7 separate regions of the Homo sapiens genome follow, and regions 1, 2, 3, 4, 5 and 7 are each linked to region 6. The links come from fine-mapping of genetic effects on gene expression. A gene starts in region 6. Each other region holds a variant in brackets. All regions are shown on one strand. Distances are from middle to middle. Region 1 overlaps SLC44A5 (solute carrier family 44 member 5). Region 2 overlaps SLC44A5 (solute carrier family 44 member 5). Region 3 overlaps SLC44A5 (solute carrier family 44 member 5). Region 4 overlaps SLC44A5 (solute carrier family 44 member 5). Region 5 has its middle 120 kb from the start of LHX8-AS1. Region 6 holds the start of SLC44A5 (solute carrier family 44 member 5). Region 7 overlaps SLC44A5 (solute carrier family 44 member 5).

Region 1 (4,000 bases), 140 kb after region 6:
CCACAAAGATTATAATATGTGTAAGAGTGAAGGCTTGCCACTTGTTAGTCTATGAGAAGGATTTAAGTATAGAGGACACGGTGGTCTGCAAAACATTATAGGACTTGTGAAATGAGGACAGGGCTGCAATGCTTTTGAGGACACTCGGGTTGCCAGAAACACAAATCCTAGTCCTCATAAATACCACATTTGTGCTTTAATCATAAAAATTCTATTGAGACTAACCTTTCAGTGAGGGAATATTATCTAAAGAGAGCACAGTCATTTCAGCTGCTAAATGAAAAACTTGTATTTTATAAGCCTAGAAAAAAGTGAGTTGAATGTTATCATAAGATAACACATGGTCTTGAGGCACCCTGGGGCGCTGATATCTCACTTCACAGCGCAAGCTCAAAACACTCCTAGCTTGCTTAATAATTGTCAAAGTTATTTTAATTTGAACCATAACCAATTATTTATGTAAAAGAACTGTAAGAATGATAGTAGGAGAGCAAGAACATGAAAATTTATTTTTTTTCAGGCTTGTTGAGATTAATGAACCCTCAAAGATGTTATTAACTTTGCAGAATGGGTACCACATCTAAACAGCTATGCATTTCAAAATACCTTGGCTTTCTTCTCAAAAGAAAGAATTAAGTTGATACTCATGACTGAATCAGAAAGGTACTACTGACAGGTGCTCGGCACACTTTCCCCTGCATGACTCACCCTAAAGATACCTTATTTTTTCCATGAAGCCTTTTTATTCTCATATTTTTCTTTGGTCTTGTTTGAAAGCTCTATTCCCAGTGGCTTGAGAGAAGAAGAATAAACACCCAGGCCCCAGTAGTTTTTTTTTTTTTTTTAAACCCAGGGGGATATGCTCTGCCTATTGTCCTGAACACTAGCCAAAATCCTACTAAAATACAATATCTAGTATTGCCAAATCCTGCTTAGAGAGACATGAGAAACCTGAGAGTTCCTTCCATGGCTTGCCACAAAACAGATTATGGGTCTGGAAAATAAAAATAACCAGGAAGTGGCATTATAAATATAGATCAGAGAAAAAAAAGCCTTAGTGGTTCCTTGTTCATGGTCCTTAGGAATGTGCAGAAGTTTTGGACAGAGGATACAAACTAGCTTATTTGATCTTCTCTAGGCATAGGTAGAATAAGAGTAAATGCCCATAAGAAACTACACAAAGGGTTTAGAGACTGAGCTAAGAAAAAGCTGCCAGTCTGGAGTCAGTAGAAGAAAATTAAGAAATAGAGGGCAGTGGAATGCCAGAGAGAGGAAATACTTTGAACACATTAGCAAAGGAAAAATAGAAAAAAAATCATATTTGGAGAAGAGACATGAGCTCTGCCCGCATTCTCTTGAGATCTTTTGCTTGATTGAGGGCATGGGCTTTCCCCCTGCCATGATTGAGATAAAAGGCTATGATCAGGTAGAGGCAGTGCTTTGGAAGCTGCTTATGTCATTCCTCCCTCCTTTTCTTTTGTCCTGGTTCTGATTTAATTCATGGGTGTGTGTGTGTGTACGTGTGTGTGTGTGTGTGTGTGTGTGTTTTCATGCACACAAGCTTATGTATTAGATGGAGAGGGATTTGAAATTTTTCCTTGTTGAAAGGAAGGCTTCAAATGAAACAGCAATCCATCTCGCAGGAAAATTCCCATCCTGGGGATTCCCTTCAAGGCAGAAATTCAAGCAATGATGAGAAAGGTGCCCTTAGACTTGCCCAGTAATGAGATGTTACAAGCCATTAATTTTATGAAACTCCAAAGAAACACAGCCAGGCCGTAAAAAAAAGGTTAAAAAATAGATCTTCAACGAATCACTGAGAAAATACTAACTTTCCAAGTCCAGGGAATAAATTTGTCTGAGCCCTCTATTTTTCCCTCTCTGCATTATATTTGAAGATAGTTGTGTTTTGTTAGCTTTTTCATTTACCCCCAAAATACTTGCAAAATGCTTTAGTTTTAGAATTTTCATGTAATTGAGGAGTTAGAAACCCACCAAAGGTAGGGAGTCAAAGCAGAAACAGTTACTCAGATGCCTCTGGTAGCTATCCATTGTTCTAGAGAACAAGTCCATACTCGTAGCTTAAAAGGGATGGCAGGATGGCACTCTTATTTAACTCCTTACCCACATCTCTCCACCTGGACAGCCCCTCCCAACCCTCCCACCATACTTATCTCAGTTTTTCGACATGCCATGCCAGGTCACGCTTCTCTCTGGCCTTGGACATTCCATTTCCTCTGCTTCAAATTCCTTTCACTAGGCTAACACCTACTCATGGTGTAGGTTTAGCTTAGACTTCACTTTCTTCAGGAAGCTGACGCCAGTAACATTCCCTCCCCCTCACGTCTGGGTTATGGCCCCTCCTGCGTGCTTCCATTATACCTTCCCTATCTTGGTAGTCTTCA[C/T]ACTATATAATAATTTAGATGCCTATTTACTTGGCTGTAGTAGTCCTCACTAGACTATAAATTCTACCGTTATGTTACAGAAGAGCTCATACAACATAAACTACCTTTTGTGGAAGGATTATTTCAAACGTGGGGACCTAATTTTAGCTGTGGCAGTACGTGAGGAACATTTATAAGGTAGGGCACAACTGTACATTCACTTGGTTTCTCTTGAGTGCTCATTCTCTTCCATCTTTGAGTATGTTTTTTACTGCTGTTTTAAAGTATAGCCCTAGGGTTCTTGAAAACCAAAGCTTTTAGCTTCACGTGTAGACTTCATTCAATTTTTTTAAAAAGTATTGTCTTGAGGATTGATTGGTTTGAAAGCTTGGTTGTTATGAAAAGCTCTTATCTTTCCAGGGTTATTCCTTAGTTGCTCTTACAGAAACACCAAAACTGTAGGAATATCTTTAATATGCTGTCAAATAGAAAGGTTGGTGATAAATACTTGCCTCTAAAGAATGTTTTAGGAGCTTAGGAAATATGCAAGTCATCCGTGAAGCCCTCCTCCCTTTGAACTGCAATTTTTTATTATGGGAGTCAGGATACGTTGACTCTACTTTTTTTTTTTTTTTTTTTTTTTTCTTCACAAGGTCTCTCTCTGTCGCCCAGGCTGGAGTGCAGTGGTGTGATTATAGCTCACTGTAACCTCGAATTCCTGGGCTTAAATGATCCTCCCACCTCAGCTTCCTGAGTAGCTAGGACTACAGGCATACACCACCATGCCCAGATAATATTTACTTATCGTTCAGACAGCGTCTTGCTATGTCTCCCGTTGGTCTCAAGCAATCCTTCTGCCTCACCTCCCAGAAGGCTGGAATTACAGGCATAAGCCACTGTGCTCAGTCTGACTCTACTTTTTGTCTCAAAGCCAGGACACCTTATCCCAATGGCATAATATTTTTATTCCATTATACGCCGTACCATTTTAGTGATTTTTTCCCCTAAGTTCTACACACACTGGTTTCAGAATGATATTGCCAAAAGGAAAGAAGAAGAAATTCACTACACTTTTTTTTTTCTGGGAATGCTAGTAAAATCTGCATCTAAATTATATAAATGGTATTATTGTCTTCTTAAGTGGCACATGGTGTTACAGCTCACGCTTATTATGTCATCATTTACCTTTCATAAGTATTTTCAACATTCTTTTATCAATCAGTTAGTCTTCAACTGTGCTGTCCAAGATGGTAGCCTCTTTTCACATGAAGCTATTGAGCACCTGAAATGTGGCTAGTCTGAATTGAGATGAGCTGTAAATGTAAAATACAGACCAGCCTTCAAAGACTTGGTTAAAACAAAAAGGATTCAAAATATCTCATTTTTATCTCAAATAAATGAATTTATATTGATTACATGTTGAAATGATAATCTGAATATATTGGGTTGAGTAAAAGGCATTATTAAAATTAATTTCATCTGTTTCTTTTTACCTTTTTAATGCAGCTACTAAAAAATTAAAACTTGCATACCTGGCATGCAATATATATACATTTTTAATTTTTCATTTTAATTTTTGTGGGTACATAGCAGGTGTATATATTTATGAGGTACAT
Region 2 (4,000 bases), 230 kb after region 6:
TATTGGCTGTGGGTTTGTCATAGATAGCTCTTATTATTTTGAAATACGTCCCATCAATGCCTAATTTATTGAGAGTTTTTAGCATGAGGGGTTGTTGAATTTTGTCAAAGGCTTTTTCTGCATCTATTGAGATAATCATGTGGTTTTTGTCTTTGGTTCTGTTTATATGCTGGATTACATTTATTGATTTGCGTATATTGAACCAGCCTTGCATCCCAGGGATGAAGCCGATTTGATCATGGTGGATAAGCTTTTGGATGTGCTGCTGGATTCGTTTTGCCAGTATTTTATTGAGGATTTTTGCATCAATGTTCATCAAGGATATTGGTCTAAAATTCTCTTTTTTGGTGGTGTCTCTGCCCGGCTTTGGTATCAGAATGATGCTGGCTTCATAAAATGAGTTAGGGAGGAGTCCCTCTTTTTCTATTGATTGGAATAATTTCAGAAGGAATGGTAGCAGCTCATCCTTATACCTCTGGTAGAATTTGGCTGTGAATCCATCTGGTCCTGGATTCTTTTTGGTCGGTAAGCTATTGATTATTGCCACAATTTCAGAGCCTGTTATTGGTCTATTCAGAGATTCAACTTCTTCCTGGTTTAGTCTTGGGAGAGTGTATGTGTCGAGGAATTTATCCATTTCTTCTAGATTTTCTAGTTTATTTGCGTAGAGATATTTGTAGTATTCTCTGATGGTAGTTTGTATTTCTGTGGGATTGGTGGCGATATCCCCTTTATCATTTTTTATTGTGTCTATTTGATTCTTCTCTCTTTTTTTCTTTATTAGTCTTGCTAGCGGTCTATCAATTTTGTTGATCCTTTCAAAAAACCAGCTCCTGGATTCATTAATTTTTTGAAGGGTTTTTTGTGTCTCTGTTTCCTTCAGTTCTGCTCTGATTTTAGTTATTTCTTGCCTTCTGCTAGCTTTTGAATGTGTTTGCTCTTGCTTTTCTAGTTCTTTTAATTGTGATGTTAGGGTGTCAATTTTGGATCTTTCCTGCTTTCTCTTGTGGGCATTTAGTGCTATGTATTTCCCTCTACACGCTGCTTTGAATGTGTCCCAGAGATTCTGGTATGTTGTGTCTTTGTTCTCATTGGTTTCAAAGAACATCTTTATTTCTGCCTTCATTTCATTATGTACCCAGTAGTCATTCAGGAGCAGGTTGTTCAGTTTCCATGTAGTTGAGTGGTTTTGAGTGAGATTCTTAATCCTGAGTTCTAGTTTGATTGCACTGTGGTATGAGAGATAGTTTGTTATAATCTCTGTTCTTTTACATTTGCTGAGGAGAGCTTTACTTCCAAGTATGTGGTCAATTTTGGAATAGGTGTGGTGTGGTGCTGAAAAAAATGTATATTCTGTTGATTTGGGGTGGAGAGTTCTGTAGATGTCTATTAGGTCCGCTTGGTGCAGAGCTGAGTTCAATTCCTGGGTATCCTTGTTGACTTTCTGTCTCATTGATCTGTCTAATGTTGACAGTGGGGTGTTAAAGTCTCCCATTATTAATGTGTGGGAGTCTAAGTCTCTTTGTAGGTCACTCAGGACTTGCTTTATGAATCTGGGTGCTCCTGTATTGGGTGCATATATATTTAGGATAGTTAGCTCTTCTTGTTGAATTGATCCCTTTACCATTATGTAATGGCCTTCTTTGTCTCTTTTGATCTTTGTTGGTTTGAAGTCTGTTTTATCAGAGACTAGGATTGCAACCCCTGCCTTTTTTTGTTTTCCATTTGCTTGGTAGATCTTCCTCCATCCTTTTATTTTGAGCCTATGTGTGTCTCTGCACGTGAGATGGGTTTCCTGAATACAGCACACTGATGGGTCTTGACTCTTTATCCAATTTGCCAGTCTGTGTCTTTCCATTGGAGCATTTAGTCCATTTACATGTAAAGTTAATATTGTTATGTGTGAATTAGATCCTGTCATTATGATGTTAGCTGGTTATTTTGCTCGTTAGTTCATGCAGTTTCTTCCTAGTCTAGATGGTCTTTACATTTTGGCATGATTTTGCAGCGGCTGGTAC[C/T]GGTAGTTCCTTTCCATGTTTAGTGCTTCCTTCAGGAGCTCTTTTAGGGCAGGCCTGGTGGTGACAAAATCTCTCAGCATTTGCTTGTCTGTAAAGTATTTTATTTCTCCTTCGCTTATGAAGCTTAGTTTGGCTGGATATGAAATTCTGGGTTGACAATTCTTTTCTTTAAGAATGTTGAATATTGGCCCCCACTCTCTCCTGGCTTGTAGGGTTTCTGCTGAGAGATCTGCTGTTAGTCTGATGGGCTTCCCTTTGAGGGTAACCCGACCTTTCTCTCTGGCTGCCCTTAACATTTTTTCCTTCATTTCAACTTTGGTGAATCTGACAATTATGTGTCTTGGAGTTGCTGTTCTCGAGGAGTATCTCTGTGGCGTTCTCCGTATTTCCTGAATCTGAATGTTGGCCTGCCTTGCTAGATTGGGGAAGTTCTCCTGGATAATATCCTGCAGAGTATTTTCCAACTTGGTTCCATTCTCCCCGTCACTTTCAGGTACACCAATCAGACGTAGATTTGGTCTTTTCACATAGTCCCATATTTCTTGGAGGCTTTGCTCATTTCTTTTTATTCTTTTTTCTCTAAACTTCCCTTCTCGCTTCATTTCATTCATTTCATCTTCCATTGTAGGGGTGGGTTGCCCCTACACACCTGTGGGTGTTTCTCGTAAGGTGGGACGAGAGATTTGGAAAAGAAAAAGACACAGAGACAAAGTATAGAGAAAGAAATAAGGGGAACCGGGGAACCAGCGTTCAGCATATGGAGGATCCCGCCAGCCTCTGAGTTCCCTTAGTATTTATTCATCATTTGTGGGTGTTTCTCGAAGAGGGGGATGTGTCAGGGTCACAAGACAATTGTGGGGAGAGGGTCAGCAGACAAACACGTGAACAAAGGTCTTTGCATCATAGACAATGTAAAGGATTAAGTGCTGTGCTTTTAGATATGCATACACATAAACATCTCAATGCTTTACAAAGCAGTATTGCTGCCCGCAGGTCCCACCTCCAGCCCTAAGGCAGTTTTTCCCTATCTCAGTAGATGGAGCATACAATCGGGTTTTATACCGAGACATTCCATTGCCCAGGGACAGGCAGGAGACAGATGCCTTCCTCTTGTCTCAACTGCAAGAGGCATTCCTTCCTCTTTTACTAATCCTCCTCAGCACAGACCCTTTACGGGTGTCGGGCTGGGGGATGGTCAGGTCTTTCCCTTCCCACGAGGCCATATTTCAGACTATCACATGGGGAGAAACCTTGGACAATACCTGGCTTTCCTAGGCAGAGGTCCCTGCGGCCTTCCGCAGTTTTTGTGTCCCTGGGTACTTGAGATTAGGGAGTGGTGATGACTCTTAAGGAGCATGCTGCCTTCAAGCATCTGTTTAACAAAGCACATCTTGCACCGCCCTTAATCCATTTAACTCTGAGTTGACACAGCACACGTTTCAGAGAGCACGGGGTTGGGGGTAAGGTTATAGATTAACAGAATCTCAAGGCAGAAGAATTTTTCTTAGTACATAACAAAATGGAGTCTCCTATGTCTACTTCTTTCTACACAGACACAGTAACAATCTGATCTCTCTTGCTTTTCCCCACATTTCCCCCTTTTCTTTTCGACAAAACCGCCATCGTCATCATGGCCCGTTCTCGATGGTCGCTGTCTCTTCGGAGCTGTTGGGTACACCTGCAGACTAACAACAGACAAAACAGGCACACAAGGATTAATATGAGATTTATAATTGTAGTACTTCCAATGGTCTTAACCCAAGTGACAGGGTTAAGATTTGCGAGGCCATCAGCAACTCCTGCAATTGCCTCAGTTCCTGGCACCAAATTTAAATGGGCTTTTGATGCTTCGAAAATTTGTTCTTTTAATTTGGAAATGTCTAAAGTGAGATTATCTTCTCTTCCCTGTAGATGGCGTCTAACCATGTCCCAGTGATGCTCAGACTCATTATAAATTTGGGGTGTAATACAAAAATCTGACG
Region 3 (4,000 bases), 150 kb after region 6:
GCTGATGAACAAAAAATGTGTATTCTGTAGCTCTTGGATAAAATGTTCTGTAAATATCTATTAGATCCATTTGGTCTATAGTGCAGATGAAGTATGATGTTTCTTTGTTGATTTTCTGTCTAGAATATCTGTCCAAGGCTGAAAGTGAGGTGTTAAAGTTTCCAGCTATTATTGTATATTGTACTGGGGCCTCTCTCTTTCTTTAGCTGTAATAATATTTGCTTTATGTATCTGGGTGCTCCAGTGTTGGGTGCATATATATTTAAAATTGTTATATTCTCTAGCTGAATTGACTCCTTTATCATTATACAGAGACCTTTGTCTCTTCATATAGTTTTTGTCTTGAAATCTATTTTGTCTGATACAAGCATAGTGACTCCTGCTGTCTTTTGGTTTCCAATAGCATGGGATATCTTTTCCCATCCCTTTATTTTCAGTTTATGTGTGTATTTTTTGTAGGCAACAGGTTATTACTTCTTTTTTTTCCCATCCATTCAGTCAGTATATTTTGACTGAAGAGTTTAGTCCATTTACATTCAACGTTATTATTAATAAATAAGGACTTCTGTCATTTTGTTCTATGTTTTCTGCTTGTTTTGTGGTCTTTTCTTCCCTTTCCTTCCTTTTAATGAAGGCGATTTTCTCTGGTGATGTGATTTAATTTCTTGCTTATTTTTTGTGTATCCATTGTATGTTTTCTGGTTTGAGGTTACCATGAGGCTTGCAAATACTATCTTATAACTCATATTTTAAGCTGATACCAACACTGTTTCATAAACAAACAAGCAAAAAGAAAACAAATAAAGACTCTATGCCTTAGCTTTGTCCTCCTGCTTTTTACCTTTTTCTTCTTTCTTGCTTTTTTTTTTTTTTTTTTTTTTGAGACAGAGTCTCACTCTGTCGCCCAGGCTGGAGTGCAGTGGTGCAATCTCGGTTCACTGCAACCTCCACCTTCCAGGTTCAAGTGATTCTCCTGCCTCAGCCTCCCGAGTAGCTAGGACTACAGGTGCATGCCACCATGCCCAGCTAATTTTTTGTGCTTTTAGTAGAGATGGGATTTCACCATGTTAGCCAGGATGATCTTGATTTCCTGACCTCATAAACCTCCTGCCTTGGCCTCTCAAAGTGCTGGGATTACAGGCATGAGCCACTGCGCCCGGCCTCTTGTTTCTATTTATATCTTATTGTGCTATGTCTCAAAAAGTTGTTATTGTTTTTGTTTGGTTCATTGTTTAGGCTTTCTACTTAGGATAACAGTAGTTTACACACCACAGTTACAGTGTTGTAATATTCTGTGTTTTTCTGTGTACTTACTATTACCAGTGAGTTTTGTAACTTCAGATGATTTCTTATTACTAATTAACATTCCTTTCTTTCTAAGTGAAGTACTCCCTTTAACATTTCTTGCAGGATGAGTCTAGTATTGATGAAATCCCTCAGCTTTTGTTTGTCTGGGGAAGTCTTTATTTCTCCTTTATGTTTGAAGGATATTTTCACCAGATATATACTATTCTAGGGTAAAAATTTTTTCCTTTATTGCTTTAAATATATCATGCACTCTTTCCTGGCCTGTAAGATTTCCACTGAAAAATCTGCTGCCCGACATATTGGAGCTCCATTGTACGTTATTTGTTTCTTTTCTGTTGTTGCTTTTAGGATCTTTTTTTTTTTTTTTTTTTTTTTGAGACAGAGTCCCGCTCTTTAGCCCAGGCTGGAGTGCAGTGGCACAATCTCGGCTCACTGCAAGCTCCGCCTCCCAGGTTCACGCCATTCTCCTGCCTCAGCCTCCCGAGTAGCTGGGACTACAGGCGCCTGCCACCGCGCCCAGCTAATTTTTGTATTTTTAGTAGAGACGGGGTTTCACCGTGTTAGCCAAGATGGTCTCGATCTCCTGACCTTGTGATCCGCCTGCCTCGGCCTTCCAAAGTACTGGGATTACAGGCGTGAGCCACCGTGCCCAGCCAGGATCTTTTTTTATTAATCCTTGATCTTTGGGAATTTGATTGTTAAATGCCTTGAGACAGACTTCTTTGGGTTAAATCTGCTTGATGTTCTATAACCTTCTTGTCCTTGAATATTGATATCTTTCTCCAGGTTTGGGAAGTTCTCTGTCATTTTCCCTTTGAATAAACTTTCTACTCCTATTCCTTTCTCTACCTTCTCTTTAAAGCCAATAACTATTAGATTTGCCCTCTTGAAGCTATTTTCTAGATATCGCAGGTGTGCTTCATTTTTTT[A/T]AAAAAATTCTGTTTTCTTTTGTCTCTTCTATGTATTTTCAAATAGCCTGTCTTCAAGCTCACTAATTCATTCTTCTGCTTGATCATTTCTGTTATTAAAAGACTGTGATGCATCCTTCAGTATGTCAATTGCACTTTTCAGCTCCAGAATTTCTGCTTGATTCTTTTTAATTATTTCAATCTCTTTGTTAAATTTTTTCTGATAGCATTTTGAATTCCTTCTCTGCGTTATCTTGAATTTCATTGCATTTCCTCAAAACAGCTTTTGAATTCTTTGTCTGAAAGGTCGCATATCTGTTTCTCCAGGACTGGTCCCTGATGCGTTATTTAGTTCATTTGGTGATGTTGTGTTTTCATGGATTGTCTTCATTCTTGCAGATGTTCATCTGTGTCTGGGCATTGAAGAGTTAAGTATTTATTCTAGTCTTCTCAGTGTGGGCTTTCTTGTACCAGTCTTTCTTGGGAGGGCTTTCCAGGTATTCTAAAAGACGTAAGTGTTGTGATCTAAGCTGTATTTGTTTTAGGGGGTACCCAAAGTCCAGTAACACTGTGGTTCTTGCAGACGTGTAGAGGTGCCACCTTGATGTTCTTGGACAAGCACTGGGAGAATTCTTTGGATTACCAGGCAGACTCTTGTTCTCTTCCCTTACTTTCTCCCAAACAAACAGAGTTTATATCTTTGTTCTGAGTCAACTGGAGATGGGGGTGGAGTGACATAAGCACCCTTTGGCTACTACCGCTAGGAATGTCCTGGGTCAGACCTGAAGCCAGCACAGCACTGGGTCTTGCCCAAGGCCTGCTTAACTACTCCCTGGCTATGGCCTATGTTTGCTCAGTGCCATAGGGCTCTACAGTCAGCAGGTGGCAAAGTCAGCCAGGCCTGCGTCCTTCCCTGCAGGATTGTGATTTTCTCCAGGACCCAGGAGGGTCCATAGGTGTTGTTTGGGAGCCAGGAACTAGAGTCAAAAACCTTAAAAGGCCATCTGATGTTCTATTGTACTTTCCATTTTTCCCTCCCCTTTCCAAAGGCAGAGGAGTCTTATCCCATACCCACCACCACTCCAGGCCATGAGGAGTACTGGCAGATTACTACCAATGTTCCCCCTAAGGCCCAAGGGCTTTTTAGTCAGCTTATTGTGAATGCTGCCTGGCCTTGGACTCACTCTTTAGGGTAGTAGGCACTCCTCTGGCCGAGAGCAGTTTCAGAAATGCTATCCAAGGGTTTGCTTTGTATTTTTATTGGACAGTGCTGGCCTAGACAGTAACTCAATAATGAGAATTTTATGTTTTCTTTTGCTAGGAAAGAGCTATTTAGTCACCGTGGCTAGCAAAATTTGGTGACTTGGTTGACTTGGACAAATGGGATCCTCAAAACACAATTAAATATATCTAATGTCCTGAGACACACCACTCATAATAATATTAATAGTTACTCCAGTGAACTAATAATATTATTTACCTCTTTGGATTTTATAAGGATTCAATTAAGATAACACGTGTGTGAAGGTTGTGACCTAAATAATATTATCTTACAGGGAGAAAGGTGCATGTGAAAATTGTCAGAGATGAAAATGGTTAGGGAACAATTTTAAAACTATTTTCATACCTGATGTATAGTAGTAATGTGCTCGATTATCTGTGGAATTAATTTGATCATCAGAGAAGAGATCTCTTTTGGTTTATGTGAAGACTTTGTATGCCAAAAGCATTTTTTGTGTTGCTATATAATCTTTGTAAACATTCTTGTAAATGGTGCATGACAT
Region 4 (4,000 bases), 200 kb after region 6:
AGAGCATTGAGAGGTAGGAACAGGTGAAAAATGTGAGCTGAGGAATCCTGGAAAATGTATGCTTGTGTGTATTGCAAGTATATATGTATGTATGTATGTCATGTAGGATGTTAACTGAAGTGGCAAAAGCTACTAGACAATCAAGAGAATAAGTTCTGAAACAACCTTGGGCTGAAGCTGCCTTGGGCATGATTCTTAAAGAGGCATTGGGAGACTCCTGCCCTACATAATTATCAATGACCATCTGTAGTAGCATTGTGTTTTGGGAAGTGATACCATTGGGTATATTTTGAGGTGCAAATGTTTGCTTCATAGTTCAGGCTATTTCCTGAAATATCAATAATTTTAAAAATAATTATTCTAAATTATTTTAAATAATAAACAATTAAATATATTTGTATTATTTTCATTTATTCAACCAAAACTCTCTAAATATTATTCTCTTTGCTATCTGGACTGAAGTATTGTAGGGCCATTTTCTGGCCCTTTCTCTGTTGCCTTTCTCTCTTTTTGAACACTCACTCTGTTCTAACAGGGTAGCACTAGAAACAACAAGACCCTGTCTCTTCTGAATCAATCACCTTTCTTTTTTAAAAAAAATTAGATTCAAGGAGTACACGTGCAGGTTTGTTACATGGATATATTGACTAATTCTGGGCTTTAGGCCTCTATTGAACTCATTACCCAATACATTCTGTAGGTGTACTCACCCAGAAAACACATACCCAGTTATATATTCAGGGTACTAAACAATAGGCTATGTGAGAAGGACTCATGGACTTCCTGTAGTGAGCACAGGACCCAACAGGTTATTTATCAAACCTTGCCCCCATCTTTTAGAGTCTCCAGTGTCTATTGTTCCCATCTTTATGTCCATGTGGACTCATTGTTAAGCGTCCATTTATAAGCGAAGATGTGGTATTTTGTGCGTTTATTCACTTAGGATAATGGCCTCCAGCTGCATCCATGTTGCTGCAAAGGATGTGATTTCATTCTTTCTTATGGATGCATAGTTGGATCAATCACCTTTTATTTTCATCCCCCTATTTTATTTTCATATAGCACCATCTTTCAGAACTTCTTTGGTCTGTAAGGAAAGGCATTAACATTCAACAAGTACCTATTAAGTGACAGTACCTGTGTAGTGAATATTATTATTATTATACTTTAAGTTCTGGGATACATGTGCAAAACGTGCAGGTTTGTTACATAGGTATACATGTGCCATGGTGGTTTGCTGCACCCATCAACCCATCATCTACATTAGGTATTTCTCCTAATGCTATCCCTCCCCTAGCCCCCCAGCCCCCGACAGGCCCCAGTGTGTGATGTTCCCCTCCCTGTGTCCATGTGTTCTCACTGTTCAACTCCCACTTATGAGTGAGAACATGTGGTGTTTGGTTTTCTGTTCCTGTGTTAGTTTGCTGAGAATGATGGTTTCCAGCTTCATCCATGTCCCTGCAAAAGACATGAACTCATTCTTTTTTATGGCTGCATTCCATGGTATATATGTGCCACATTTTCTTTATCTAGTCTATCATTGATGGGCATTTGGGTTGGTTCCAAGTCTTTGCTGTTGTGAATAGTGCTGCAATAAACATATGTGTGCATGTGTCTTTATAGTAGAATGAGTTGTAATCCTTTGGGTATATACCCAGTAATAGGATTGCTGGGTCAAATTGGTATTTCTGATTCTAGATTCTTGAGGAATCACCACACTGTCTTCCACAATGGTTGAACTAATTTACACTCCCACCAACAGTGTAAAAACATTCTTATTTCTCCACATCCTCTCTAGCATCTGTGTTTCCTGACTTTTTAATGATCACCATTCTATCCAGTGTGAAATGGTATCTCATTGTGGTTTTAATTTGCATTTCTCTAATGACCAGCGACAATGAGCTTTTTTTCATATGTTTGTAGGCCACATAAATGTCTTTTTCTGAGAAGTGTCTGTTCATATCCTTCACCCACTTTTTGATGGGGTTATTTGTTGTTTTTCTTCTAAATTTGTGTAAGTTTCTTGTAGATTCTGGATATTAGCCCTTTGTCAGATGGATAGATTGCAAAAATTTTCTCCCATTCTGTAGGTTGTGTGTTCACGCTGATGATAGTTTCTTTTGCTGTGCAGAAACTCTTTAGTTTGATTAGATCTCATTTGTCAATTTTGGCTTTTGTTGGCATTGCTTTTGGTGTTTTAGTCATGAAGCCTTTGCCCATGCCTATGTC[C/T]TGAATGGTATTGCCTAGGTTTTCTTCTAGGATTTTTATGGTCTTAGGTATTACATTTAAGACTTTAATCCATCTTGAGTTAATTTTCGTATAAGGTATAAAGAAGGGGTCAAATTTCACTTTTCTGCATATGGCTAGCCAGTTTTCTCAACATCATTTATTAAATAGGGAATCCTTTCCCCATTGCTTGTTTTTGTCAGGTTTGTCAAAGATCAGATGGTTGTAGATGTGTGGCATTATTTCTGAGACCTCTGTTCTGTTCCATTGGTCCATATATCTGTTCTGGTACCAGTACCATGCTGTTTTGGTTACTGTAGCCTTGTAGTATAGTTTGAAGTCAGGTAGCGTGATGCCTCCAGCTTTGTTCTTTTTGTTTAGGATTGTCTTGGCTATATGGGCTCTTTTTTGGTTCCATATGAAATTTGAGTTAGTTTTTTTCTAATTCTGTGAAGAAAGTCAATGGTAGCTTGATGGGGATGGCATTGAATCTATAAATTACTTTGGGCAGTATGGCCATTTTCATGATATTGATTCTTCCTATCCATGAGCATGGAATGTTCTTCCATTTGTTTGTGTCCTCTCTTGTTTCCTTGAGCAGTGGTTTGTAGTTCTCTTTGAAGAGGTCCTTCACATCCTTTGTAAGTTGGATTCCTAGGTATTTTATTCTCTTAGCAGCAATTGTGAATTGGAGTTCACTCACGATTGGGCTCTCTGTTTGTCTGTTATTGGTGTATAGGCATGCTTGTTATTTTTGCACATTGATTTTGTATCCTGAGACTTTCCTGAAGTTGCTTATCAGCTTAAGGAGATTTTGGGCTGAGGCGATAGGGTTTTCTAAATATACAATCATGTCATCTACAAGCAGAGACAATTTGACTTCTTCTCTTCCTATTTGAATACCCTTTATTTCTTTCTCTTGCCTGATTGCCCTGGCCAGAACTTCTAATACTATGTTGAATAGGAGTGGTAAGAGAGGGCATCCTTGTCTTGTGCTGGTTTTCAAAGGGAATGCTTCCAGCTTTTGCCCATTCAGTATGATATTGCCTGTGGGTTTGTCGTAAATAGCTCTTATTTTGAGATACGTTCCATCAATACCTAGTTTATTGAGAGTTTTTAGCATGAAGGGCTGTTGAATTTTGTTGAAGGCCTTTTCTGCATCTATTAAGATAATCGTGTGCTTTTTGTCATTGGTTCCATTTATGTGATGGTTTATGTTTATTGATTTGCATATGTTGAACCAGCCTTACATCCCAGGGATAAAGCCGACTTGATTGTTGTGGATAAGCTTTTTGATGTGCTGCCGGATTTGGTTTGCCAGTATTTTATTGAGGATTTTCACATCGATGTTCATCAGGATACTGGCCTGAAATTTTCTTTTTCTGTTGTGTCACTGCCAGGTTTTGGTATTAGGATGATGCTGGTCTCATAAAATGAGTTACAGAGGATTCCCTCTATTTCCATAGTTTGGAAGAATTTCAGAAGGAATGGTACCAGCTCTTCTTTGTACCTCTGGTAGAATTTGGCTGTGAATCTATCTGGTCTTGGGCTTTTTTTGGTTGGTAGGCTATTAATTATTGCCTCAACTTCCGAACTTGTTATTGGTCTATTAAGGGACTTAACTTCTTCTTGGTTTAGTCTTGGGAGGTTGTATGTGTCCAGGAATTTATCCATTTCTTCTGGATTTTCTAGTTTATTTGTGTAGAGGTGTTTACAGTATTCTCTAACAATAGTTTGTATTTCTGTGGAATCGGTGGTGATATCCCCTCTATCA
Region 5 (4,000 bases), 590 kb after region 6:
AAAAAGGAAAATTTAAAGACAAAATAAAAAATAACATTCTTGGCTCATAATAATTCCCTAACAGTGCCATGGGTAAGTTTTCATTCAGCCAATATGATCATCAAAGAATCCTGGATTTTAATGAGATAAGTATCTTGGAGATCAAACGATTGACAGAAATGTCTCCTTTCATAATGTGTCAGGCTTCAAAATCCAAGTGGATCCTGCACTTTTCTGTAGTTTAAAGATATGTGAACATTACATGGAAAATACTTTCATTGTCCATTGCCTGTATGTTAGTTACAGGGCAAGGCATTACTTATGCTATTTGCTAAACTGCCTGGAACACGATTAGGGTATATAAAAATATAAAATAATTTGAAGACCATAGTCATCAGTATTAATAAAGATTGATCATTTATTATTTCCTATCATTGTTATTCAACCTAATTTTCCAGGAAACTTAGGGACAAGTGACAGAGGAAGGAAAGAGTTCGGAGTGGATGATAATGTCACTGTGAATGAACTGTAGCAAGATTATAGTCAAAGAAAGGCCTAGCCTACCCTTGATAGAGAGGAGTAGTGTTATCTCTAAAGATAATTATCATTCTGGACCTAAAGCAGTTCTAGAGATCTTTTTTGGTGCTTGGTTCTGGGTTTATGGAAAAAGAATAAGACAGGTTTCAGTTTTGGCCCAGCTTTTCCAGCTGTGTGATCATAGATAAACATATTACTGACACTCTCTGGATTTGATTTTTCTCACTCATAAAATTTAGATTGAGATCTCTGTGGCCCTTTCCAGCTTTAAAATTCTAGGATTCTAGAAGAGAATAAACAGGGGGAAAGTACTTAGGATCATAATCAAATTTTTAGCAACATACCCCCAACCCCTCCACCTGTTCCTAGAATAACCTTTTGGAAATAATGTCTTTAGGCTTTCAAGGTCCTGTCTATACATATGTGTGGGAGGAGGAGGAACATCTATTAAGCACTTACGTTAAATGTCACTTTCTCCAATAAGTTTTCCCTTATCGCCGATCTCCTGCATACCTCTTAAAATAGTTATTTATGGGAAGGTCAGTAGTACTTATGTAAAGTCAGAATTTGGTTCTTGGCTGGTAATTATGGAGGAAAATTTGGCCAAATTGAATGATATTGAACAATGTACATATTTTATTCCTTTAGTCATGGCTGATAGACCTATGTTCCTTAGGAAAACAAAGTAGGTTTGGATGTTTATTTTGAATTTTTAATGTTTGATTACTTTTGATATTTGCTCTTTCTTTTCTCAACTTTTATTTTAGTTTCTTTTCCCAACTTTTATTTTAGTTTTAGGGTTATAGGTACAGGATGTGCAGATTTGTTACATGGGTAAACATGTGCCGTGGTGGTTTGCTGCACAGATCATCTCATCACCTAGGTATTAAGCCCAGCATCCATTAGCTAGTCTTCCTGATACTCTCCCTCCTCCCACCCCAGACCTGTTGGAGGACAGGCCCCAGTATGTGTTGTTCCCCCTCACGTGTCCATGTGTTTTCATCATTCAGCTCCCACTTATAAGTGAGAACATGTGATGTTTAGTTTTCTGTTTCTGTGTTAGTTTGATGAGGATAATGGCTTCCAACTCTTTCTATGTCCCAGCAAAGAACATTATCTCATTCCTTTTTATGGCTGCATAATATTCCATGGTGTATATGTATCACATTTTCTTTATCCAGTCTATCACTGATGGACATTTACTTTGGTCCCATATCTTTGCTATTGTGAATAGTACTGCAGTGAACATATGTGTGCATGTATCTTTATAATAGAGTGATTTATGTCCCTTTGGGTATACATGCAGTAATGAAATTGCTGGGTCAAATGGTATTTCTGCGTTTAGGTCTTTGAGTATTCACTACACTGTCTTCCACAATGGTTGAACTACTTTACGCTCTCACTAACAGTGTAAAAGTGTTCCTTTTCCTCTGCAGCCTCTCCAGCATCTGTTGTTTTTTGATTTTTAATAATAGCCATTCTGACTGGTATGAGATGGTATCTCATTGTGGTTTTGATTTGCATTTCTCTAATGATCAGTGATGTTGAGCTTTTTTCATATGTTTTTTGGCCACATAAATGTCTTCTTTCGACAGGTGTCTTTTCATGTCCTTTGCCCACTTTTTAATGGAGTTGTTCATTTTTTTCTTGTAAATTTTTTTTAAGTTCCTTGTAGATGCTAGATGTTAGACTTTTGTCAGATGGATAGATTGCAAATATTTTCTCCCATTCTCTAGGTTGTCTGTTCACTCTTATGATAGTTTGCTGTGCAGAAGTTCTTTAGTTTAATTAGATCCCATTTATCAATTTTTTCTTTTGTTGCAATTGCTTTTAGCATCTTCGTCATGTAATCTTTTCCTGTGCCTATGTCCTCA[A/T]TGGTATTGCCTAGATTTTCTTCCAGGGTTTTTATAGTTTTGGGTTTTACATTTAAGTTTTTAATCCATCTTGAGTTGATTTTTGTATATGGTATAGGGAAGGGGTCCAGTTTCAATTCTCTGTATATGGCTAGCCAGTTTCCCCCCACATCATTTATTTAATAGGGAATCCATTCCTCATTGCTTGTTTTTGTCAGGTTTGTCAAAGATGAGATGGTTGCAGATGTGTGGTCTTACTTCTTGTTCTCTATTCGGTTCCATTGTTTTATGTGTCTGTTTTTGTGCCAGTACCATGCTGTTTTGCTTACTGTATCCTTGTAGTATAGTTTGAAGCCAGGTAGCCTGATGCCTCCAGCTTTGTTCTTTTTTCTTAGGATTGTCTTTTTTGGTTCCATATGAATTTAAAAATACTTTTTTTCTAATTCTATGAAGAATGTAAATGATAGCTTAATGAGAATAGCATTGACTCTATAAATTGATTTGGGTAGTATGGCCATTTTTATGATATTGATTCTTCATATCCATGACCATGGAATGTTTTTCTATTTGTTTGTGTTATCTCTGATTTCTTTGATCAGTGGTTGGTAGCTCTCCTTGAAGAGATCCTTCACTTCCTTTGTTAGCTGTATTCCTAGGTAGTTTATTCTTTTTGTGGCAATTATAAATGGGAGTTCATTCATGATTTGGCTCTTGGCTTGCCTGTTTTTGGCGTATAGGAATGTTTGTGATTTTTGCACATTGATTTTGTATCCTAAGACTTTGCTAAAGTTGCTTATCAGCTTCAGAAGCTTTCTCAGCCAATGCAAAAGAACTGAAATCATAACACATGACCTCTCAGACCACAGCACAATCAAATTAGAACTCAAGAACAAGAAATTCACTCAGAATCACACAACTATTAATACAAGGAAATTGAACAACCTGCTCTTGAATTATTCTTGAGTAAATAATAAAAATAAGGCAGAAACCAAGAAGTTCTTTGAAACTAAAGAGAACAAAGATACAATGTAACAGAGTCTCTAGGACAGTTAACACAGTGTTGAGAGGGAAATTTATTGCACTAAAAGAGGGAAATTTATAGCACTAAATGTCCATTTTAAAAAGCTAGAAAGACCTCATGTTAACAGCATAACATCACAACTAAAAGAACTAGAGAACTAAGTGCAAACAAACTTCAAAACTAGCAGAAGACAAGAAATAGCCAACATCAGAGATGAACTGAAGGAGACAGAGACACAAAATCCCTTAAAAAAATCAATGAATCCAGGAGTTTTTTTGGGGGGGGCCAGAAAAAATTAATAAAATAGACCACTAGCTAAACTAATAAAGAGAGAGAAGAATCAAATAAACACAATCAGAAATGATAAGGGTGATATCACTACTGACCACACAGAAATCACAGAAATAATAATAATAAAAAACAATCAGAGAATACTATGTAAACACCTCTATGCATAGAAACTAGAAAACCTAGAAGAGATGGATAAATTGCTGGACACGTACACCCTCCCAAAACTGAATCAGGAAGAAATTGAATCCCTGAAGAGACCAATAATGAGTTCTGAAATTGAGGCAGTAATAAATAACCTACCTACCTATCAAAGAAAGCC
Region 6 (4,000 bases):
GTCTTATAAATGCAAGCTGGTTACATTGGTTATAATCACGTCACCACCCCCACCCCTGCCTTTTCCAATATTAGTACAACAAAGACTTCTTGCTCAATTACTTAAGTGTAAAACTTATGTTTAGGTTAATTTATTCATTTATTCATTTAGCACATATTTATTGAGCACTGAATATGTACCAGATTCTGTGCAAAACACTAGGGATACGGTAATGAACATGATAGACAATGAAGTAAGAGGAGGCCTGGAAGAAGCAGGTGACAAATAATATGAACCAGAAAATTTCACATAGTGATTAATACCAGGAGAAATAAAACAAAGTGATGTGCGAGCAAATGATTTTGAGGTTACTTTAGATTGTCTGGAAAGGTGGCATTTGTGTCGGGAAACAAGTGATGAAGAGTAATTTGCATGCCAAGAACTGGAACATAACACTTCAGGCCTTAAGGTAGAAATGAGGTGGTAGCTTGGCACATTCACATACAAAAGGAAGAGGTGTAATGTGTAAGGAAGAGACAGTTAGGGAGAAGCCAGGCCTTTTTGGTCATAAAAAGGAATATAGAGTTTAAGTGCAATGAGAAGCCATTGGATATTCACTTGCTATTTGGGGATACATTCCTCTCCTGGAAGATTATTTCAGGGAGAGGAGCATTCCTACATCAACTCCCTAGGCCAACTAAGGTGACCTAATAGACTTCACTTTTCTAAAAGGTCCAGTTATACTCACGTTATTTTCTCTTGCTATTCACCAGAATACCTATGCAATTTCAGGCTGAGATATTGATAGCATCTCTAGGAATCCCTGCTTAGAAAACAATTCTAGAGAGAATGAGGATTAATTTAACATTTAGTACAAGATGATAAGATTAGTCACTTCCCTGGCAAGCCTTTCAATGCAAGTAAGTCTTAGGAAAAACATATTGTAATGGTAGAGGGGGATTCTGAGGGGTCCAGAACATGACTGTGCAGTAGGCAGAATGTGGAAGGCAGCATGAGGGGCTCCTAGATAACAGAAAGGGGTCCACAGAAGGAGAAGAGTGATGTTTGGAAGGGGACATGAGAAAGCCTCTAAAACAACATCAGCCAATTCGTGATTTTGCCAAGTGGAAGCCTGATATGAGCATGTTCCAAGAGAAACATTCTCATTCAAACACAGAAAAAGTTTAAACCAGGGTACTTTTATGCTTTTGACTGATCTTTTTATAATGAAGCATTTGTAACAATAAAAGCACACAGATGTTTACAAAGTCTCTTTGATTTTACTTAATCACTGTCAGGTTGTTCTGATGGATTACAGACCTCACAAATGAAAATAGCATGAACATATTAATGATAACTGCTGTTTGTTGGAGGTAGTTGCTTGATAGCTAGTTAAGGAAATCATGCTCTTGGGTCTCATTTTACTGTAGAGATGTTGGTAAGTGGGATATGGGGTATATTGGATGATTTTCTTTCCCCTAAGCATTTGTGACAAGAAGGTGCTATGATATTCAGGAAAGACACAAATAATAGTAGATTATTTTAAAGGTAATCATGGCCTACTTCCACCTCCAAACTACCTACTTCTTTGCCAAGGATTAACAATGAAAAAATATACTATAGCTCCAGGACTTTGTTCAGTCTCCTCCCCCTCTTTATACTCCAAGTGACTCCTTTGAGGCTAGCAAGGCTAGTAGGACCTCAGGGATTACCTAAGAATGGGGTATGGCCCTTAGTGATACTGGAACACAATGTGTTTATGACATCAGCTTTTTTTTCACAGTAGTGAATCGTAGCATGTTAGAGTTAGAAGGTTCAGTGTTGATGGAGTTATTGAAGAAATGATGGAGTAAGAGGTGAGTGATACTGCTAAATGCAAGAAGTCTATGTCTGTAGGAAAATTGGTCAAGTTTGTTATTCATAAGTACGTATTCTATACAACTCAAGAAATACACACACACACACACATATATATAGTGAAGTCTGAATATAAATTAGGAACTGAGCACTTCCTCTCCGTGTGTGTGTGTGTATATATATAGATATCCTGGGGGATTATTTAAAGAGAGTAGTATTTTTACATCAGCTCCCTAGGCCAAGTAAGGTGACCCAATGGACTTCACTTTTCTAAAAAGTCCAGTTACACTTATGTATCTTCTCTTAATATTCACCAAAATATCGACAATATTTCGGGCTGAGATGTTGATAACATCTCTAGGAATCCTTACCTACTGGTATTCACACCTGTTCATACTCCCCTTCCAAAATGAATCACAGCTGACCATGTGATCAGTACTGTACAGCAGAAAACTACATCATAAAGACATACACTATGGCTTCTGCCTTGTTCTTTTGTATTCTTTGCTTTCTTATGTTGCTCATTTTGGGGAAACCAGATGCCATGTTTTAAAAATACTCAAGGATCCCTTGGATTATTTTTTGAAGCAGAGGTTCATACAGATATTATTAACATTTCAGCCCAAAATATTGTCGGTATTTTGATGAATAGTAAGAGAAGATACATAAGTATAACTGCACTTTTTAGAAAAGTGAAGTCCATTGGGTCACCTTACTTGGCCTAGGGAGCTGATGTAGAAATATTGCTCTCTCTAAATAATTCTCCAGGATATCTATGTGTATATAGGTATATGTATGTATATGTATATACCTATGGAGAGAGAAGAAGAGCTCAGTTCCTAATTTATATTCAGACTTCACTATGTGTGTGTGTGTGTGTGTGTGTGTGTGTGTGTGTGTGTATTTCTTGACTTGCATAGAAGTCTTGAATCTTAGCTCTGTGTGGGAAGAACTGAGGCCTCCTGCTAATAGCAACAACTTGCTAGTTATGTGAGTGATCTATCTTGGGAACAGACCCTGCAACCAAGTCAAGCCTTCAGATGACTGTAGCTTCAGCCAACATCTGACTGAATTTCATGATAGCCCCGACCCAGAGCTATCCAATCAAGCTGCTTCTGGATTCCTGAATCACAGAAACCATAAGATATAATAAATGCTTACTCTTGTCTTAAACCACTAAAATTTGGGGGTAATAGGTTACATAACATTAGATCATGAATATACCTGTGGTTCATTATTTTTGCACCTCTATCATGAAATGTAATATTTGTTACTAGTTCCAACACTGATCTTGAATCTTAGCCCTCTTTCCTATTTAGTGAATTGGGCTGAAACCCTGAAGTTCTCTTTTCTTGTTTCCCTTGAGTTTCTTGTAGCAGCTTGCTTTCTCCTCTGCTTTTTTGAGTACTGATTCCTGGCTCCTCTAGTTCATTTAGTTTAGAAGATACTTTCCAAATTGAAGCACTACCGAACCAAAAATCAGAGTGATAAAGAGAATACAAAAGCCCTAAAATCTCCCAACAGCACAAGATTTCACAGTCCTCCAAACTAAGAAGATAGAAAGTTTCTTAAAATCTACAATCTTTTATTCTCACCATCAAAAATAAGAATGTAAGGTAATGAATATGTTAAATAGCTTGATTTAGCCATTCCACAATGTGTATATATATCAAAACATCAGGTTTCACACCATAAATATATAAATTTTTACTTGCCAATTAAAAAAGAAAAAACCCAAAGAAATGAAACCCTAAAATATTCAAATAAAAACCTTTCCAGCTGTATTTATCTATTCCTCCTTACCAAAGAATCCCTTCCTCCTCCCAGCCCAGTTAGTCCTTTGAGGTATAAATAGGAGACTGAGAAAGAGGATTTAAGAAAGGAAGGTTGCCGTCTCTTCTACTTGAGAGTAGGATATTAATCTATTTTATTCGTTCATGTAGTTCTCTATTCATTCAATAAGTGTTAATCAATCGCTTACTATGTACTGGGCACTATTCTAAGCATGCTTGGGATAAATCAGGGAACAAAATGAATTCTTCATGAGGTTTACACTATACATAGGGAAGACAAACAATGAATAATAAGCATGAATACATTGTTGATATTAAAAATTGAAAAGTGCCATGACAGAAAGAAAAAAAAATGAGCATAGTAAGGGGGA
Region 7 (4,000 bases), 210 kb after region 6:
CATTTTATTCATTTTATTCTACCTCTCAGGTGCCAATCCTTGCACGTACATACTATTTTAAGAAAATCAGCAAGGGATGGCCATTTTATATTTTGGGCACTTCATTTAGCTTTTTAAATGGTAAGTGTGAAACCTGTATGTCCCTAATAATGCTTACCATCCTAATGAATGTGGGTCAGCATTGCTAGTTTTAAAGGTGTGTGTGTGGTGGTGGGGAATATCCTGAAAATGTTATGAGTAATCTTTATTTTTCTCATACATTTGACATTACTGGAGGCTAGTAGTTATATTGATTACAAATGGACTCTGGAGCACACAGACCTAAGTTTGAATTCCAGGTTCCCCACTTACTAGCAGTGTGACTTTAAACAAAGATTAGACCCAAAAGTTCACGTTGCCTCTGGGAACCTTGGATTCTCATTTTTAGAAGTGAACCGATTATTGTAACTACTGCAAGGCTTGTTGTGAATATTAAATGAGATAACATAAATGAAACATGGCACCTGGTGCATAGTAAGTGTTCAAAAGTTGGTTACTATTTTAATTATCGTTATTATTATTTTTCCCAAAGGAACACAATTTACAAATGTTCGCTTTCCCTGGAATCTTTACCCCAACTCTGACTCTCAATGATTTGCTACTGTTAGTCCGATTGATGAAAAATCAATGGGGAAACCAAGCATTGTAATCTCTGCCCATGAGGTCTATAGACGGAATTCTTTTCAATAGCTCTAATTAATGAGTTGGCAAGTCTGATAAAGCACCAGAGAATGGGGTGTTCATAGAAAGCATTAGTGTTTTTGTTTAACATATGTGACACTTGAAGCATTAGGATGCTGTTATTGTTCATTATGGCACGTGCCACCTCCCCATTCCCCAAAATTACCATAATTTGTACCTTCCAAATTGAATAGAGTCATTCATAGTTATCACATGGGAGTTTCTGTTAAAGCTAAAGGCCACACGTAGTGTGATTAAGGTGGGACTGCTGAATTCAAAATATATCTCTTTTCCCTAGGCTACACTGGCTATTCTGCATGTAATAAAAGGTATTTAATGCATATTAAGTTTTTCATGACTAATGTGTCTTCTGAAGTTTAAAGCAGGAACAGAAAATGAAAGTAAACAAAATGCCTCATTTCTTAGTAATGAATTTTTCAAGTCTCTACATATCACCTACATTATACAAGTCATAGATGCAAATGGAAGAATTAACAGCTTTATTTCATCATCCCCAAACCTCTTACCTCCAGCACCTTCATGAATTATTTTTTTGGTAACTTCTTAAGAATAAATGCTCATTATTGGCAGCTTTGTGTATAAAGAATTACTTCAACCAGTCCAACTGCCTTATGTTATTTTGTGTGTTAGTCTAAAGACTAAGATTTTTTAGGATAAGGAGAGATGTGTATAGAACCTCAGAGTCATCAGCCCCTACAAATATTTTTTTTGCCTTTTGTGCTTTTTCCTAGAAAAACCAGCAGATACTCCCTCTGAGGAAGAGGACTTTGGTAAGTCATAGTCTGAGTATTAAGTGCTAAGAATCTTTCATGACAGTCTATCCATTGAGAAATATGTGATTCTTTTAAAATCTAGGAATAGCGAAATATTTGTTTGGTAAAGAATAATTG[C/A]TGACTGAAGCTTTTTTTGGATTCTTCTTTCAACTGTCTGTTTCTCCTTCCTGAAAGGGTTCCCTCTTTTTGGAGTTGTAAATGAATTTCCCAGGAAAAACATCATGCAGCTACTGATGCTTTATCACCCCAGCTCACCTGACACATCTTGTCTTCTTTCCTTCCTTTCAGCTCAGTTTGTGACTTTGACACATGAGTCTTGTTCAAATCTCTCTCTCCAATAAACACCTTCACTCTCCAGCTTTCATGACACTATGTGTGTATTATTCAGTCTTCTTTTTCCGACAGCCGGCTCTCTCCTTAGTCAGCCCCATAGAGTTGATTCTTGCTACTCAAAGTGTGGTCTGTAGACCAGCAGCATGAGTAGGACCTGGGAGTTGGAAATTCAGCATCTCAAGTCCCATCCCAGACTTATTGAATCAGAATCTGCACCTTCAGAAGATTCTCAGGTGATTCATGTGCAAACAAAAATTTCAGCAGCACTGGCTTCAAGAATTTCTCTTCCTTTGTGCAATCTCATTGCCCCTGAGGTATATAAATAAGTACTTTTACTCGGTGACTTCCAACATTACTTGGATCCCCAATCTTCAAATAAAAGATTATTATATATGTGGTGAGAATGTTAAAAGTCCATTCTATTAGCAATTTTAAAATATGCAATACATTATTATTAACGGTGATCACCATAGCAAGGTGATGGATATGTTAATTAGCTTAACTTAATCTTTCTACAATGTATATATACATAGAGCAAAACATCACATTGCAACCCATAAATATACACAATTATTGTTTGTCGATTAAATAAATGTATAAGAAAATATGATCATACATGTACTTTCCTGCCTCTTTTCTCAAAACCCATTTATTGACTCTCATGTACTTTAATTTTACCTACTTAGATGCTGCTGTTTGTTCTCACACTTAGATAGCATTTTACAGTTTCAAAATTCCTTCATATAGATTTTGTTACTTAATCATATATGATCATATAAGGTAGAAAGGTAGGTAATAGAAACTTTTGTAGAGGCTATTTTGTAAATTTCCATTTGTAATTTTTTAATCTCAGGGGTTGAAATAAAAAGGTAAAAAATGTATCAGCAGATGGTTTTTTCCTACCTTAAAACAAAGTAGAGGTCAAGTCTTTTTTGTGCCATCAGAAGTCTGAATCATTCTGCCTCAAAATGTATCATGGGTCAAAATAATGTTTTTTGCTCAGTATGATCTGAGTTATGTTTTTATTCATATACCTTGTCTTCTCACTTGGAATAAAGTAATTAGGCCTAAAATAAAGCCCTCATCTTTCTCACAAGGTTTATGAGATAAATAAGCTAATGAGGAAAAACACTCCACTTCTGATATAAAGTAGCCCAAGGAGAGAAGTACCACTGAGTGCTGCTTCTGCTTGAATGGACAGAAGTAAAAGAAAGAGGAAAGGTTCAATATAGGATATTGTACTATGCCATTTCCATTCTCCCAGACAAGGTATTACTGGGATAACTCTGCTGAGTCATGGCCCAGGAGGAACTGTTGGTTTTGCATCCACTAAAAGTGCATCTCAGCAGAGGGAAACACTCCCAGATCCTAAGATCTGGGGTGCACTCAGTATTCAGGGGTGAGTGGATAAACAGGCCTTGGATTTCAATTGGGTGGATGATGGCATTTTTGTCTTTTCTTTTTGGTTCATTCACTCCACATTTACACTTCTTTTTAAGAGCCTGATATTAAAGAAAGCTTAACTGTGCTAACAATGGGGGTAAGCTTGGGAGAACTGGAGTGTTATTGGTGTTAACCCATAGGACACATTCTTCAACAGCCTTGTGTTCCAAAGAAGCTGAGGCCCACCAAAGCCAGTGGCTCGTTTCACTTCCTCTTCTGTTACAGGGAAGGGTTGACCTCATCCTTTCCAAGGCTCATAGTACCTCTATCAGCATTGCCTCTTCAAAGACTTTGCTCTTGCAATTATCCCCTCTCTCTCTTGCCTACATGTAAATATGCCTTAATACAGCCGCCTGAAATTTATTTAAAAAAAATGATCAATTAACCCTTTCATCACGCTAAAACTCAAAAGAATTGTTTATAGGCATTGACTCCACTTTTCTCCTATTCTCTCATTAACCCACTCCAACTGGAGTTGTATCTGCATTACTTCATGAAACAGTTTTTTATCATTTCCACAGACTTGTATCTTGCTCTTCCATTACAGAATTCTTTTCCTCACCTTACTCTCTCTCAGCAGCATTTAGCATGCTCAGCCACTCTACTTTTTTAAACTTTCCTCTTCTGCTTCCAAGATACCACACTCTCCTGGGTTTCCTCCTGACTCTCTGATCTCTCCTTCTCTGGCCAGTCGCTCACACTTAAAGTCT

Evidence for each region. PIP is the estimated chance that this variant, and not a neighbour inherited with it, causes the effect.
Region 1: its variant is fine-mapped to the expression of SLC44A5 in whole blood (TOPMed, PIP above 0.99).
Region 2: its variant is fine-mapped to the expression of SLC44A5 in whole blood (TOPMed, PIP above 0.99). The same link has a PIP of 0.9 or more in blood mononuclear cells, ileum, lung, lymphoblastoid cells and skeletal muscle.
Region 3: its variant is fine-mapped to the expression of SLC44A5 in whole blood (INTERVAL, PIP 0.95).
Region 4: its variant is fine-mapped to the expression of SLC44A5 in whole blood (TOPMed, PIP above 0.99).
Region 5: its variant is fine-mapped to the expression of SLC44A5 in whole blood (TOPMed, PIP above 0.99).
Region 7: its variant is fine-mapped to the expression of SLC44A5 in whole blood (TOPMed, PIP above 0.99). The same link has a PIP of 0.9 or more in skeletal muscle.

Annotation. Positions count from the first base shown.
Region 1 is chr1:75,468,929-75,472,928 of GRCh38, reverse strand. All of the region lies in intron 2 of SLC44A5 (solute carrier family 44 member 5), which reads left to right. Among named protein-coding and RNA genes, the nearest start is that of SLC44A5, 140 kb to the left of the region's middle. The variant C/T (reference allele first, on the strand shown) is at 2,406.
Region 2 is chr1:75,382,100-75,386,099 of GRCh38, reverse strand. All of the region lies in intron 3 of SLC44A5 (solute carrier family 44 member 5), which reads left to right. Among named protein-coding and RNA genes, the nearest start is that of SLC44A5, 230 kb to the left of the region's middle. The variant C/T (reference allele first, on the strand shown) is at 2,019.
Region 3 is chr1:75,461,103-75,465,102 of GRCh38, reverse strand. The region is part of intron 2 of SLC44A5 (solute carrier family 44 member 5); the gene reads left to right. Among named protein-coding and RNA genes, the nearest start is that of SLC44A5, 150 kb to the left of the region's middle. The variant A/T (reference allele first, on the strand shown) is at 2,238.
Region 4 is chr1:75,406,017-75,410,016 of GRCh38, reverse strand. All of the region lies in intron 2 of SLC44A5 (solute carrier family 44 member 5), which reads left to right. Among named protein-coding and RNA genes, the nearest start is that of SLC44A5, 200 kb to the left of the region's middle. The variant C/T (reference allele first, on the strand shown) is at 2,230.
Region 5 is chr1:75,015,346-75,019,345 of GRCh38, reverse strand. No RefSeq gene overlaps it. Among named protein-coding and RNA genes, the nearest start is that of LHX8-AS1, 120 kb to the left of the region's middle. The variant A/T (reference allele first, on the strand shown) is at 2,391.
Region 6 is chr1:75,608,875-75,612,874 of GRCh38, reverse strand. SLC44A5 (solute carrier family 44 member 5) reads left to right here and starts at 1,761. Exons shown (of 24, transcript NM_001130058.2): 1 at 1,761-1,835.
Region 7 is chr1:75,394,094-75,398,093 of GRCh38, reverse strand. SLC44A5 (solute carrier family 44 member 5) reads left to right here. Exons shown (of 24, transcript NM_001130058.2): 3 at 1,473-1,511. Among named protein-coding and RNA genes, the nearest start is that of SLC44A5, 220 kb to the left of the region's middle. The variant C/A (reference allele first, on the strand shown) is at 1,632.